Linked DNA regions of Homo sapiens: region 2 is linked to region 1. The links come from fine-mapping of genetic effects on gene expression. A gene starts in region 1. The other region holds a variant in brackets. All regions are shown on one strand. Distances are between the middles of the regions. Region 1 holds the start of MTF2 (metal response element binding transcription factor 2). Region 2 has its middle 58 kb from the start of MTF2.

Region 1 (5,268 bases):
CTTGTCTCTTTTTACAGAAAAAAAAAAAAAAAAGAATGGTTACATAAAAGCTCACTATTCTATTCTGCTCACTTTGTATTATGTTTGAAATATTCCTTAAGTTTTTTCTACCAAAGTGTAAAAACAAAGTAATTTTTTTAAACAACAAAACGTTCCTAATATCCATTTTTTGTTGTTTTTTGACACAGAAGCAGAATCTTATATTTTAAAAAGACTAGAGAGGTCACTATCTTTCATTATTCTATTGCAATGTTATATGAAAACAGAAATATGACAGAAGACATGGTATGTGGTAAAAATGAATACTTCATCTTAAATGTACAAAAAGAATCTGAACTTCCTCAGTTCTCAGGCATTTCCTCATCCTTGGATTCCTGTGGTTTCCATGGTTAATGAATGTAACAATTCCTCAATACATGGATGCAATAACCCCTACTACTGTGCTGTCCAATACAGTAGCACTGCTACATATGGCCATTTAAATTTTAGTTTTAATGAATTAAATTATAAATTCACTTCTTAGTCTCACTAGTTACATTTCTAGAGTTCAATACCCACATGCAGCTAGTGGCTACTGTACTGGATACAGCAGATATAGAACACTGCCATCACTGGAGAAATTTCTACTAGATAGCACTACTCTAACATATAAGAAATATCCACAGGGAAACTTTTACATTCCAATTTAGGATGGTTATACTGGATTTCACAGCAATAAACAAATTTTCCTGAAGAACAGGGAAAACAAAGTACAAAAATATTAACCATCAAAGATCGTTCATGGAAGTGTCGACTAACTAAAACAGCAGTTAAGTTTTACTTTCAGAACCATCAAGCTACAGATGTTGGTCATGGCAACTCCTCAGAGGCAAATTTCTCTGTTAAAATATAGATTAACAATATACTGTCAGTTTCCTCAAGTCAGATGTAAAGATTATGCTGAAAAATGATTAAAGCAAATTATCCTTCAAAGATCCCACAAAAAGGAATATTTATAATCCATGAAATCAAAGAGTTAATGACCCACAGTAAAATACACAGAATGTCTTTCCTAACAGAGCTTTGAGGCAACGGGGATGATTTAAAGAACTATTAAATATAATTGTGTCATCTAGAAAAAAGGCTTAACAAGATGATTTCTGTACAACTAGTTCTAAAACTGTGTATGCATTTCATCCTGATAGTTACACATTTCCGTTAATACCCACTAACATTATAAATGTAGTATCAGGAAGCAGGTGTGTTCTTAATTCAAATATTTAGAACATTTTTAGCACTTTAAAAAACTGCAGGTGAACTAATTTTAAAATGTGAATTCAAATACATTTTTATATTTAGGAATCTGAAAAAACAAGTCATTTTGTATTCCCTCTCAAGTTATAACTAAACTATAGGGCACTTAAAGCCATCAGTCAAAACAACTCCCTTTAAAGCATTTTCAAATCTTAAAAAGGTTATTGTGAATTTAATTACATTTTATCCACATTAACTACTTCTACATACAACTATCTTTGAAATTTACTGACAAAAAAAAAAAAAAAAGGAATTCCCAAGAGAGAATGAAACCATGGAAATTGAAACCAGCTTGTAGGCTAGGTATACAGGAGGGTCACATGGAATCCATCTGAAGGAGAAAGTAACTACTATTACTACCGGAGGTTCTGAAGTCAAATTAAATCAGGTACTATTTACATATTTCTAGCTCTGTACTGACCTCACATGGTGCCTTCCTATGTATTACACACAGGCCTAGCTAGGTTTTCACATTTAAGTTAGTGTTACATGGTTTCTATCTTTAACCAAAGTTAAATGTTTTAAAGAATAGAGTAACATTCCATAAGCCTTTTCCCATTGTTCACAAACCCTTGCTGTTAGTCAGATTACCCCGATAAATCCATCTGTTCCCTCTAATTGCTTCCAAAGAAAAATTCTAGCAACCAAGGACACCAGATTGTAAAACACAGAGTTAGAGTTCTGGCACTACCGAAATATGTTAAGAAATCTTGGCAAATTGGTTAAAATTCCTTGAGCCGTAATTACCTCAGTTGTAAAAATGAATACAATACAAATCTACATCCTAGACGTAGATTATATGAGTTAGGTTTAATTAAACACAAGAAAAGCCTCATATTTTTGGTGAGCTCCAAATATAAGCTACCTAGCTTTCCCCCATCTCACTTTCCCTCCCACCGCTTCCCTTTAAGCTTTCAGGTTGTGCTTCCAACCTCCACTTCAGTGTGTTCCCCTTATCCTTACCAGCACTTACACTCGACCCCCTTTACTCCAATTCCATACAATTCCACCCTCCGATTCCAAGCTGCTACTTCCCTTTGCGCACTGCTAAGGTCCCAGGCAGCCCTCCACTCTGCTCCCCACATTTCCCTCAGCCCCCATTTCCCAACGGCTCCTCCTCTCGGCTCCCCACCCCCTCGTCACCAGGTTCATCCTGCCCCTCCAACCGTCTCCCGCCCCCAGGTTCCTTCCTGCCCTCCAAACACAGCTTCCCCGTCTCAACGTTTCATCTTGTTCCTCCAACAGACTCCCCCAACGACCTCCTCGCTCCTTTAGTCCCTATTTTCTCCCAACACTCAACTGACTACTCCTCTTCATCCATTCTTTTCAATATACACATAAATGCAAAGGCACCCACATACAGGAGCCCCCACCCCCACCTTGGTCCTCCATCTTTCCCTTTTATACTTGCTTCCTTTCTTCCTCCTTCCCCCAACCCCCATCTCCTCCGGAAGAGTCGGTTCCCAGGCCAAGGTCTCTCACCTCATTCGGTCACTTCAGTGGTGCCAACCGCTTCATACAGGAAAAAACAACCAATCCGTCCCCGTGGGCGCTTCCCCTGCGAGTCCGAGCACTTACTGGGCACCCGCCCCACCGGGTACCCGGCACATATGCACGCACAAACCGAGGTCCTTGGAGACAAGGGTTGGGGGTAGAATGAGCGTTCTTACACCGGCCTCAAACACAGCCCACTTCAATACAGCCCCTCGCCATTTTGGTTTCCCGCGGACTGCCGGTGCATTCTGGGAGCGCGGAGCGACTCCGGTGCCGAATGGCAGCTCTCCAAAGCCGCGGGGGGGCAGGGACTGCGCGGCGAGCGCGGAGGAACACCGCGCCCTGCGTCCCCGACTGGGGCTGAACAAAGAAGGACTCTTTAACGTTGCAGTGAGGCTCAGTCCTTCCGCCGCCGGGGCTAACACAATAGTGAAAGCTGCGCTCCTGATCGTCGGCAGGCTGGCACTGTTATACAGGAAAAGGGTCGTGTGCGACCTTCGGTGTGCGTGGTCGTAACGGTGCTCTGTGCATCTTGCTGGGCCGATTTCTTTTCCCTGGAGAAAACCTTAACTGAAGCACGTTTCCTCTACTTTCATCCTAAGGCCTGCTGTTAGAATTTCCTTCAGAGGGGAGAAGACCCAGGATGTCGAGATTAAATTTTATTCAGCGATTCACTGTCCAGTCCCAAACTCCTTATCAGGAGCTGCTTTTATGAAAGACTTTCAGACGATTTTTTTCCTAACGATGAAAGGTTGTTTTCTGTTTACCCGCTTTGCAGTCCTTCCTAGTTGTAATGAAATCTGAGAATAGTCCCCTGCAAAATGGTTTAAGAAAACAGAATTGTTTATTAGTGCAGACCCTTAGCCTGCCCAGATTCTGCTGCCTACAGGGGTCCCAACTGACAAGCTGTGAGATTGTATGCTTGTCTCTTTAACTTACACCTAGATACAACCCAGCTCCTCTTAGTAGCCACGTGTGGAATCTTTATTTATAATTTCGTCAAAATATTTTTAAAGCCATTTTATATTTTTGTCCCATATTATGCCACAGGGATAGTGAACACCATATTTTTTCTGTCTCTGAAAAAGTACCTTTTGTGGTCTAAGCTCATTTGGCTCATACTTCAAAAGGGGTTCCCTCAGCCTGTGATCTCAGAATTTGGCAAATAAGCATATTCGTTTTATCCAATACCATTCAATACTTTAAATATTGTGGTCATACCCTTCCACTCCTCTGCTTCTCCTGAATAATAGTCCTAATCTTTTAAGTCTGTCTTCTTACTGTACCCTCACTGTATCTACTTACCTACTACCTTTCAGGTTTCACTTTATTTCAATTCTCATCATCGTCTCTCATAAATTCGTCTTAAGTGACCTTCATACGTTGGCTGAGGAAAATTTTGACTTAAAAAAAGCAGATGCAGCCGGGCGCGGTGGCTCACACCTGTAATTCCAGCACTTTGGGAGGCCGAGACAGGCAGATCACCTGAGGTCGGGAATTCGAGACCAACCTGATCAACTTGGAGAAACCCCGTCTCTACTAAAAATACAAAAATTAGCCAGGTGTGGTGGCACATGCCTGTAATCCCAGCTACTCGGGAGGCTGAGACAGGAGAATCGCTTGAACCCAGGAGGCAGAGGTTGTGGTGAGCCAAGATCGTGCCATTGCACTCCAGCCTAGGCAACAAGAGCAAAAACTCCATCTCAAAAAAAAAAAAAAAAAAGTAGATGCATTCCCATTCAGGAACGTGGCATTAAGGTAAATAAATAAATAAAATATTAAAAAGTAGATGCAGTACAAAAATTAATAAAGATATTGCACAAACAGATATATTTGCTGTGCAGCTAAGCCTAATCAGAGAACATCTGTTTTGGAGAACGTTTGGTCTAAGTTTTCCTCAACATTTCTGTAAAGTGGTCACCAAGCCTCAACTTCAAAATCTTCAGTGATTCAATACTTCAGACGCATTCATTTCCACCTCAGAAACTCTAATAATTTAGGCTCTTTGGCTACACAAAAGTATTCTAATCCCTTATACATTAGAGAAGTAAATTATGCCTCTATCAAAAAAAAGTGTTATTTTTCTGTGCAAACGTGTGAGTACAAAGGTGTAAGCAAACCAAGTGTTCAGAGATTTAAGGACACTCAGGGAGTCACAGTCAAGTATAAAGAATACCTGTCAGCCAGCCACCAGCAACTCACTCCTGTAATCCCAGTACTTTGAAAGGCCAAGGTAGAAGGATCACTTGAGCTGGGGAGTTCCAGACCAGTATGCAGTCTGAGCCACATAGTGAGACCCTGTCTCTACAAAAAATTTAAAAATTAGCTGGGCCCCTGCCTGTAGTCCCAGCTATTCAGGAGGCTGAGGTGGTAGGCTTACTTGAGCCACAGTGAGACTGCCTCAAAAAAAAAAAAAAAAAAAAAAAAAACCTGCTGTAGTTGTGGTTCCTCGGAAATATAGAGTGAACTCTGATCAGAGTA
Region 2 (5,509 bases), 58 kb after region 1:
TTAATCTGCTACCTTAAAAAACTCAGAAAGCAGGCTAGGCACAGTGGCACACACTTGTAATCACCTGAGGCCAGGAGTTTGTGACCAGCCTGGCCAGCATGGCAAAACTTCGTCTCTACTAAAAACACAAAAATTAGCCAGGCATGGTGGTGACGCCTATAATCTCAGCTACTCGGGAGGCTGAGGCACGAGGATCACTTGAACCCAAGAGGCGGAGATTGCAGTGAGCCCAGATTGTGACACTGCACTCCAGCCTGGGTGACAGAGTGAGTGTCTCAAAAAAAAAAAAGTAAAACAAAAACACCCAACAACTCAAAAAGTGACAGATCTGGAAGGGTGGATTTTGATATGAAAAAGAGGAGTAGAAAGTATAGGTCAGACCAAGTTTAATCCAAATCCCCTGATCTTTTTCCTCTTCAACAATTATCGGTGCCTTATTACTGAGAATTTAAAACATCTACTTAACTAAGAAGTTGGTCAATGATGGGAAGCTGGAAGATCAGTATGTCAGAAACTCCCTGTTTTTTTCTCTTTTGCCCTTGTGGCAACCCTTAAGGAGGATCCTGGGAACATGGTAAAAGTCACTGCTTTAATAAATTCTATAAATACCATGCACATAAATAGAAGCTTCTAAGTCTTCAACAACCATTGTTTTTAGCACACACACACACACACACACACACACACACACAAAGATTATGAGATAAATACACATTGGCCTTCAAGGTCAGATTCTCTTGTAACAATCCCAAGCTATTAACTGGGAGAGTAATTAACTTGTAATTTAAGCACATTTTAAATAGCTTAACAAATCTTTGTCCAGTGAAGCATTCCTAGAGGAGATGCCATACCTCTAGATTAATCTTAAATGTTCTCAGCTGTATGTGCAATCTGAAGTTTGCTCCAAATTACCAAATCCAGGTTCTACTTTTCACCATTCCATCGATTTTCTTCAGTTTGTATGCAGATTTCTGCCAAGCCGGTGGTCTGTAGCTTGCAATTGACAACACCTACCAGCTGTTAAATTTACACATCGCTCCAATTTAAATGCTTAATTGCTCTCAGTGCACTCAATTTACAGCTCATAAACCCCTCTCAGATGGCCCCTAAACCTCTGCCAATAATAGATTCTAAAGTTAAATGAACCATAGTGTCCCTTGGTAGAAAATTAAATATCAGAATAATCTTATACTTTTGGAATGTTTATAATTATTTGTTGGAAAAAATTAACATCTGAGGGTTTTCTTTTTTATTTTATTTTTATTTTTTATTTTTTGAGACAGGGTCTTGCTCTCTCAGCCAGGCTAGAGTGCAGTGGCACAACCATTGCTCACTGCAGCCTCAACCTCCAGGGCTCAAGCAATCCTCCTGCCTCAGCCTCCCAAATAGCTGGGACTACAGATGTGTGCCACCACACCTGGCTAATTTTTTACTTTTTTGTAGAGACAGGGTCTCACTATGTTGCCCAGGCTGGCCTTGAACTCCTGGGCTCAAGTGATCCTCCCACCTCAGCTTCCCAAAGTACTGGAATTACAGGTGTGAGCCACCTTGCCCAGCCATAGGGTTTTCTTTAAGTTAGCCTTGGAGAGAAATAAAAGTTTCAACAACTGTCATATCTTCTACCAGTCTCTTAGCATACTTGTCTTTGAAACTGGAACAGAAGGTTGTTACCTGCCCTTATATTTGTATAGTGTCCTGGATGACAGGGAGGATAAAGGAAATATTAAATATTTTATGGACAATGACTATATCATTACACACTATCGCAATGTCAATGGCATCTAAGATAAAGAATACAAGTACTGTAAGTGTGGTATTCTGGTGGGAGAATCTGTGAAGGCTCTTCTACTGTCTGCCTGCCCCCTTACCTGGGAAAGTGAATGTTGAGTTTGAAAGAGCTCATCTCATTCAACTCCCTCTTTTTATACATGAGGACACTGAGTCCCAGAAAGCTCAAGTGGATTGCTCAGCCAGTGAGTGAGGCAGGGCAGGACCGGGATCTCAAGTCATGGCCTCTTCAGACAGCATCTTAACCACTTGATCTACCCCAGTTTGTTGCCATCAGCATCAGAAAGGAGAAAAGGCAGAATTCAAGTAAGTCTTTCTTAAACCTGTACAAGATACAGAAATAAATTTTTATTCAACCAATGATGCATACCCAGGTACTTCCTGCTTTAAGCCGAACCGTATATGAAAATAGAGATTTACACGAGGCTAAATTACAGAGTTCTTCTT[G/A]ATCTAATTAAAAAGGATTCATTATTGGATTCCCTTAAATATCTAGCACCTCTAGTGAATTTTTAAGTTCACTTATGCCAGCCCCAAAACACGTTTATTATGTAAATTAAGGTATTTATGCATTTTAACTGATTAGCAAGTGTTTATAAAGTACCTAACACTATGCTAGGTGCTATACAATTTTTAAAAATAATAAGTTTAATATAAGCCATGTTCCCTGCTAACAAAAACTTTACATGTTAGTGTGGGCACAAGACAAATGAAACAACTTGAAAACAAAACAGTATATAATGAAGTGTTAAATTGTATAATATGGAAGGCCATGTATAATAAAGGTGAAAAAAAAGACAAGTGAAACACTTTACGAAATTCAAACACCTCTGAACTCATTTCATTTGTGTGTTTTTCTTTTTATTCATGGGCTAGCAAACGGAAACAGGTTAATGGCAATGTAGATGAGAAACTGTCCTTTACTCCCTTTGAAATACGGTCATTAGACAGATTTGTAAGTTTTGACACCTCCTAGTGGCAAGTCATAGTAACTGTCTGTCTGCACTTAATGTTCTGTAACAATTTTTGATGCCAAAAAACGGTGAAGAAAACTTTAATTTAAATTGACTTTTCAAAGTTTTCTTTGAATAAGAGAGGCTGAGTAGTGTAGTGGTCAAGCACATAATCTCTGAGCTAGACTGCCTCAATCCAAACATCAGCTTTGCCACTTACTAGCTATTTGAGCTTGGGCAAATGTTCTCTGTCTGCAAAGTGGGAATAATAGTAGTACTTTCTTTATGACATTATAATGAGGATTAACTGAGAGAATACTTGAAAAGCAATTAGAATAGTGCATCTCACATAGTAAGCATAATATAAATGTTTGCTAAGTAAATTAGAACAAATCACAATAAAGATCATTCTTATATTTAGGTTATACTGATTATAATTTACACTTTTGCTAACTTGGGGAAATTATTTAACTTCTCTGGGCCTTGGGTCATTTACTGATGAGCAATTGGCCGGGTGCTGTGGCTCACGCCTGTAATCCTACCTAGCACCTTGGGAGGCCGAGGTGGGAGAATCTCTTGAGCCCAGGGGTTTGCCACCAGCCTGGGCAACATGGTGAAACTCTATCTCTACGAAAAAAAGTACTAAAATTAGCCAGGTTTGGTAGTGTGCACCTCTAGTCCCAGCTACCCTGGAGGCTGAGGTGGAAGGATGGCTTGAGCCCAGGAGGCAGAGGTAGAAATGAGCTGAGATTGCAACACTGCACTGCAGCCTGGGTGACAGAGCCAGACTCTGTTTCAAAGTAATAATAATAATAATAACAATAATAACAACTATGTGTCAGTAAATTTTTAAAAAATAGATTTTCTTTTCTTTTTATTAAAAAAAATTTTTTATAGAGATAGGGTCTCACCGTGTTGACCATGCTGGTCTCGACTCTTGGCCTCAAGCAGTCCTCCCACCTCAGCCTCCCAAAGTGCTGGGATTACAGGTGTGTGCCACCATGCCTGGTCAGATTTTATTTTCTAGAACGGTTTTAGATTTACAGAAAAATTGAGCTTTGAGGAGTACTGGTCAAGTGTCTTGGAGCATGTTCTCCAATTGGAATTTGATGTTTTTCTTGTCTTAGATTGGGGTTATGAGGCCACAGGAGGAAGATCATAGAGGCAAAGTGCCATTTTCATCACATCGTATCCCTGGATATACAGTCATCATGATTTATGACACTGGCTGAAGTGGTTTTTGCCAAGTTTCTCCACTGTAAAGTTACTCTTTTTCCTCTCTTTCCATAATCTTTGGAGGGAAGTCACCATGTGCTGCCCACACATAAGAAGTGGATGTATGCTCCCTTTTTGGAGGGTGGCAGAGTATCTACATAAATCACTTGCAATTCTTCTGTATGGACAATTTGTCTCTTCCTCCCACTTATTAATTTATTCAATTATGTATTTATAACATTGTTAACTCATGCATACTTGTTTTATACTTTAGGTTATAATTCAGTATTACTTTTATTTTATTTTTTTTTGCTCAAATTGTTTCCCCTTTGGTCACCGGGAACTCTTTCAGTTGGCTCTTATGCCCCTTTGACATAATCCAACAACATGATTTTTTTTTTCTAGCACTTCCTTACTTTTCGGCACTGCAACATGCTCCAGGTACATCTTGTGTCTTTCCTTCCCCAGTTCTAGAATCAGTCATGTCTCCAAAAAAACCCTTAGTTCCTTTTGTTAGATAATGGTATTAGGAACCGAGATCTGGATGGTAGGTGTCTGTGTACTAGAGAATATGCTAGGTCTTTTAGGACTTCTCTGCTAACAGATCAAATAAATAATTGTGTGGATACTAACCAGTGTATATACATCTATCTATAAATATTTTTATATAGGTCGGGTGCAGTGGCTCATGCCCAGAATTCCAGCTACTGAGAAGGTTGAGGCGGGAAGATCTCTTGAGGTCAGGAGTTTGAGACCAGCCTGGGCAACATAGAGAGACTCAACTCTAAAAAATTAAAAATAATTTACCTGGATGTAGTGGTGCATGCCTGTAGTCCCAGCTGTTCAACAGGCTAAGGTGAGAGCATTGCTTGAGCCCAAGAGTTCAAGGCTGCAGTGAGCTATGATCACACCATTGCGCTCCAGCCTGGGCAATAGAACAAGACCCTGTCTCTTAAAAAAACAATCTATATCCAAATTAAACTAAATATGAGTTCTTACTGATGTGTCTAACTTTAATCCATTAATATATGGATCATTCTAGCTTTTTCTCCTTGCTTATCTGTAAATTCCCACTCCAGCAGTGAGAAACCTGGTTCCTACAATCTGCCATCTATTTACTCAATCATTTAGTTCCAGTACACATGTGTAGCAGTATCAGAATTGTTAACCCATGCCCCCAAATGAAACAACTTTATCAACTAAAGCAGCATTATTTTTTTAATTTGTTTTTATTTCAGTAGCTTTAGAGGTAAAAGTGGTTTTTGGTTACATAGATACATTGTACAGTGGTGAAATCTGGGCTTTTAGTATATCTGTGTGTAGTGTACCCAACAGGTAATTTTTTCTCCCCACCCTCCTTCCACCATCCCTCGCTTCTGAGTCTCCAGTGTCCATTATACCAGTCTATATGCCTTTGCACATCCATAGCTTAGCTTCCACTTATAAGTGAGAACATATGGTATTTGGTTTTCTATTTTTTAGTCACTTCACTTAGAATAACGGCCTTCAGTTCCATCCAAGTTGCTGCAAAATACATTATCTTGTTCTTTTTATGG

What was found. PIP is the estimated chance that this variant, and not a neighbour inherited with it, causes the effect.
Region 2: its variant is the best candidate, but not a certain one, in a credible set for the expression of MTF2 in whole blood (INTERVAL, PIP 0.63).

What each region holds. Positions count from the first base shown.
Region 1 is chr1:93,077,039-93,082,306 of GRCh38, reverse strand. MTF2 (metal response element binding transcription factor 2) reads right to left here and starts at 3,024. Exons shown (of 15, transcript NM_007358.4): 1 at 2,776-3,024. The coding sequence starts at 2,780. RefSeq lists enhancers at 2,981-3,275, 3,212-3,461.
Region 2 is chr1:93,019,006-93,024,514 of GRCh38, reverse strand. No RefSeq gene overlaps it. Among named protein-coding and RNA genes, the nearest start is that of MTF2, 58 kb to the left of the region's middle. RefSeq lists a silencer at 2,609-2,903. The variant G/A (reference allele first, on the strand shown) is at 2,236.